Linked DNA regions of Homo sapiens: region 2 is linked to region 1. A link means that fine-mapping ties the variant in region 1 to the expression of a gene that starts in the linked region. Tissue or cell type: monocytes after Pam3CSK4. Region 1 holds a variant in brackets; the other region holds the start of a gene. All regions are shown on one strand. Distances are from middle to middle.

The links. PIP is the estimated chance that this variant, and not a neighbour inherited with it, causes the effect.
Region 2: it holds the start of LINC00900, and the variant in region 1 is fine-mapped to the expression of LINC00900 in monocytes after Pam3CSK4 (Quach 2016, PIP 0.95).

What each region holds. Positions count from the first base shown.
Region 1 is chr11:115,695,697-115,698,378 of GRCh38, forward strand. The region is part of intron 2 of LINC02698 (long intergenic non-protein coding RNA 2698); the gene reads left to right. Among named protein-coding and RNA genes, the nearest start is that of LINC02698, 38 kb to the left of the region's middle. The variant T/C (reference allele first, on the strand shown) is at 1,112.
Region 2 is chr11:115,759,085-115,761,766 of GRCh38, forward strand. It overlaps LINC00900 (long intergenic non-protein coding RNA 900), which reads right to left and starts at 1,116. Exons shown (of 3, transcript NR_034148.1): 1 at 946-1,116. The region is part of intron 2 of LINC02698 (long intergenic non-protein coding RNA 2698); the gene reads left to right. RefSeq lists an enhancer at 176-710.

The DNA of each region.
Region 1 (2,682 bases):
CTCTTCTGCAGTCTTTTGGGGAAGGAGAGAAATGCTAATTACCCTCCTCTATTACCCTTCATTGATTTATGGGAGGGGAGCTCTGCCATCCTCTGGTCTTCCTCCCTCTCCCAGTGTGCTTCCCCCTGGTTGTACTAACAAGGGCTTAACTAGAGTTGAATAAGCGCCAGGGCAGCTTAGCTTACAGTACCTCTCCGAAGTTCCTCCTCCCTCTCCTTCTCTTCTCCTCTCCCCTCTCTTCCTCCACCCCCTCTACCCCCACCAGTGTCTGTCCTTGGGGGCTCAGGGCAGAGGCCACCCTCCTGGGGGAGATGATCCCCTAGAACTGCCCAGGTGGGCTCACCTCTGCTCCTCCCCGGGAGCAGCCAGCAAGCAGCCAGGGAGCCCTGGGAAGCCAGGTCAAATGCAGAGGATGTAGGAGCAGGAGCCAGGGGGAGGCAGGGTGTCCACCAGGGAGGTGATTAGCTCTGCAGTGCCTCTAATAATAATCTGTGAGGCTAACAAACAGCGCAGAGGAGGAGACAAGTGCAGCCCCTGTGCTGGCTGTCTCTGTCTTTGTTAAGGTTAGAGGAGGAGGGAGACTGTGTTAATTGCAGACTTATCATGATTACCTCCAGCTCTCAGCCCGAGAGCCACAAGAGGCAAAGCCATGGATTAGTGTGGAGATTGGAGGGGCTGAGAGCTGAGGGGGTAGTGTTCCCTCTGGGCCCTGGGGACCCAACTTGTGAGAAAACCCTGAAATTAAAAAACTCAGTTCATCCATTGATCAGTATTGACGGGGTGCGATGTGTTCTGTAGAACATTCAAAGCAGTTCTGAATTTCATTTTTTAAGATATGAGATATAAGCCAAAAAAGATGAGTCTCCATCTATCCCATCACAGAACCTCCCAAGGCACACACACGCCCTCTCCCACACACACTCACACGCACACACACTTGGTTCTGAGCCCTCCTGTGTTAGACACTCTATAAATATCCATCACATTGAATTAAAATGGAAACTGGACCTAGAGAGAAGGGGTGTGGCTGTTCTCACTCTGGCTTTCCTAGTTCTTTTGCTGCTCCATCCCGATCCTGTAGCTGCCTGCAAAGGAGAACACAGAGGTGAGA[T/C]TAGAAGGCCCTCAGCCAGGGTTTGAGGAGGCCTCTGGGAGTCAGCTGACTCACCACGGGGGCAGCAGCAAAGGCAAAATCAGGGCCAGGCTGGGAGAGCTTGGACAGGACACCAAACCCAGTCTTAAAGCAAATGCAGAGTGTGACTGAGAGAGTTTGAGCAGAGCAGAGCAAAATGAAAACCAGTGAGAACTAACTCAGCTGCAGAAGGAGCCATGGAAATTATCCGAGGAAGCAAAGCCCCCTCACTGGGAGGAACCTCTTTCTCTTGGCTAATTAAATTCCCAAGCTTTGGAAGCCTGGCCAGAGCAAGCGCCCTGGTTAACATCACGTAGGGCACACCCAGACCATGCCTGAGTAGGGGGATGAGGTGTGGGCATCTAGGCTTACTGAAGGCTAAAACAGCAATTTTTTTTTTTTTTTGAGATGGAGTCTCGCTCTGTCGCCCAGGCTGGAGTATAGTGGCACGATCTCTATTCACTGCAACCTCCGCCTCCTGGGTTCAAGCAATTCTTCTGCCTCAGCCTCCAGAGTAGCTAGGATTACAGGCACCCACCACCATGCTCAGCTAATTTTTGTATTTTTAGTAGAGACGTGGTTTTACCATGTTGTCCAGGCTGGTCTCGGACTCCTGACCTCAAGTATCTGCCTGCCTTGGCCTCCCAAAGTGCTGGGATAACAGGCGTAAGCCACCGTGCCTGGCCTATGACAGCAAATCTTAAAAATGCAGTTCTCTGAGGCTAGCCTCTGAAAGAATATGAGCAAATTTTACCCCCTTAGATTATAAGTTAAAGACCTCAAAGGGGCTTGTGGAAATAAGAAACTTTGTGGAGGATGCTGGAAAGAAGGTGGCTGGAATTTCTCCCTCGTGGGTGGGTTTGTCTCAGGCAGAGATCTCTCAGTTAGCCAGTCAACTGTCTCTTCCATCTGGGCAGTGCATGGGGACAGCGGCCCAGGCTGGTTAGCCAGGGACTACACATGGGGCTTGGACCTGCCCTATCCTCTGCAGCTGCTTCAAATTTTCTTTCATCTGCTCTCTCCCTGGTCTCCCCTCCCCTCACTTCTATAGACCTCATTGTCGCTTGCAGTGGCCTGAAACCCCACCCCTTCCCTAGGCTCCCAAACTTGACACCCCCTAAGATCTGATCTATGGCAGCAGGACTGGTGGTGGATCCATGAAATAATCATGATAATAATAATGAATAAATGAATTACCATCTATTACATTCTTAATATATGCCAGGGCCCTGAGCTAAGTGTTTTATAATGCAGTATTCCATGTAATCCTTTTAACAGTCTTGTGAAAGATCATTTAATCATTTTATAAGACCTGATTTATAAATGAGGAAACTGAGGCCCAACAGCTTGCCTAAGGTCAGTCAGATACCAAGCTTGTTAAGCCGGGATTCAAATTCCGAAGTGCATGCTTTCTCTCCTATGGAGAGGACTGGGGAGCAGGGAGGTCAAATTCCTTGACCCATCATTTCTCCTGCTTGTCAAAAGGGCTCAGAGTGCCCAGCCTGTATCCATCGTGGCCCTCACCCCCTCCTCTAGGCCCTGTCTCTAGCCTG
Region 2 (2,682 bases), 63 kb after region 1:
CGGTGTGGACTGCAGTGGTCAAGTTAAGTCTGGAGCAGAGGAGTTGCTGGGTGGATATGCTAATCTCAAGCATAAGGCAGGGGAGTTAAGGATGGGGCGCCCAGGGTCCTTTGTGCGGAGCAGGGCAGCTTGGCTACGGTCATCTTTATTTCCTCGAAGGCCAGACAATCTGCGGGGAACGTGGGGAGGGCTCATCTGTTTAGAAGCTGTGCTTTAGGCAAGCTTGAGAAAACATCTGTCCATCCTTGTCCAAAGTGGGTAGCTAAGGACCCCTGGCAGAGAATCACCCATCTTGGGAGCTCTGAGCACCAAGGAGGAAAGCCCTCCGAATTTGAGCGGTGGTTCTCAATGGGAAAGAGAAAAGGAGTTTGCCCATAGCCAAGGGGAGAAGCTGGAGCAGGGTTAACCTGCGGCTTGGGGTTCAGTTGAGCAGGCTGGGCGCCCGGCATGGGAGGTAGAGGTAGGGAAGCTGGGCCTTCCCTTCGTCTTTTCTGCGACCAGGGACGGGTGGCACCTCGTGGTCCGCAGGAATACCTGTGTGGAGGGCTGGGGTTTGGCTCCTGCCGGCTCCTGGAGTATGCTGGGGGTCCACCCCCCGCCTCCCTGCGTCCCCTTCTCCAGCCTCGCCTCCCCAATGCGCTTCCCGCCTCTGCATCGCCGCCGGCCCCTTCACGCCTCTACCTTGGGCGGGTTTGGGGTAAGGGCCGCGCAGACCCTAAGGGAAGGCCCGAGGTCGCCGGAGCTCCTCCTCTCGCGGCTGAGTGAGGGTCTGGGAGGCCAGATGAAGGGAGCTGCTCGGCTGAGCTGCGGACCAGCGCGAGAGCAGCGGGCAGTGGCGGACCAGCGCCAGGGCAGGGCAGGGGTGGACAGAGGGCTCTCCCCACCCTTCCCTCCTCCAGTGAAAGTACCAGAAGAGATGGCGGCCGCTCCGCCGAGTGTCATTACCGCGGAAGCAGCAGAAGCCGGCGGCAGGAGCGGGCCCGAGAGCCCGCGGCCAGTGGCCTGCGCACCCCGCGCCCAGCGCCCCCGCCGCGGGTCATCAGTGTCAGCGTTGAGGGGTCCCGGGGAGCGGTTGCAGGGCGGCGGCGGCGGCCGGGTCATCAGAAGCACAGTGGAGCCGCCCCCTGCTTTGGGAGGAGCAAAAGAGCCTCTCGCTTGCCTCCCGCTCGAGCTCCTTCTCCTCTTCCTTTTCCTAGCGCTTCTCTCCCTCCCTCGGCGGGGTCCGCAGAGACAGCTGGGCAGGCGGAGGCTGCGCGCCTCTCGCACCTCCACGCCCACCCTCCCGCCGCCCCCCCCTCGGCCTGAAAGATCTGCGTCCACACCACCCTGCACCCAGGGCCCGTCAGGTTTTGCAGAAGTTTGCTGAGGGTCCTCACAGGGGGTCTCCCAGGGGAAGGGGTGGAGGGCTGGAGGGGCCGCGGTGGGAAGAGGTGGCAGACGCCGCCTGGCAACGGAGACCCTACCCTTTCTAGAAATTCAGAACGCAGAGAAACCAGTGCCCAGCCCTGCTCTTCAGCAAACGGTGTATTTCAGCCCGAGTTTCCTTCCGGGGGTTTGGCTGTGAGTGTGTGTGACCTCCCAGATGGCGGCACGGTTCAGATCCCATGCTCCCTCTGTTTCACAGCTGCCAGAGACAGACTCAGGGATTCCGGGCTTTGGAAGAAGGTCAGACCATGACCTCCTATCTCCTGTTCTCTTCTCCCCTCACTCATCACCCGCTGGCCACCCCACTCTCTGCACCCCACCATGCATGCTTACTGTAGACCTAATCACTAATTAGCCCAAGGGTTGACTGAGCGTGCTGGTGAGAGTAACAGGAGGCAGGTGGATGGGGAGGTGTGATGCTGCGCGCATAGTAGGTGCTGAAAACATGCAAGGGCACGATGCACATAAGCTAGACAGAGCCCTTGGTCCTGCTGGGTGCTGGGGGAGTGAGATTCAGAGCAGCAGACCATCAGCCGGGTAGACAGAGGTCATGGCCCCAGCAGCTCAGCCCCATTAGCTAGGCTGGTGGGAGGCAGCCAGTGCTTTTGAGGGCTCAGACAATCCCTGCGATTCAAGGGCTGCTCTTTGGAGCTGCTGCCAAACTAATCTCAGGCCTGCAGTCTTGGGCCTTTCCTTTAGTCTCAGCCCACTTGCTGACTCTGCCCTTCAGAGGAGGCCCACTGCCTCCTCCTGGGGCTGAGGATTAACCCCTAAAAACTGAGTTTTGTTTGCAGAGCTATCTCCAAAGCTGAGGGAGCCTCTGGAGTCTCCTGTTCTTGCTGCTTGTTGACTAGGGGGATCCTTGAGGTCAGATGGTGCTGGCAGCAGCTCAGCCCCTAGCCCCAGACACATATTCAGTCTGCAAATACAGCAGGAAATCTTTCTCACCTGGCCCAGCCATCAGTCCTGGCTTGCCCAGCCCTGCAGGGCACTGCCTAGTAGGCCTTTTCCTACAAGCTCAGCCCCACCCAGCTACGGAGCCTGCCCTAATTGGGCTAGGAGGGCACTAGCACCTCCCTTTTACTGGTAGGGGAAGTGCTGTACTCAGATGTCTGCCCACAGATTCAGGATCCAGTATGTTTGTGGCAAACACCCTTCCCTTGATCACCACTAAAGTGGTTCCATTCCTAGTGCTGGGACTCTGCCTTAGTTTCCTAATTAGCACTACAGCCCCCTGAGCTCCAGTCCCATCTGACT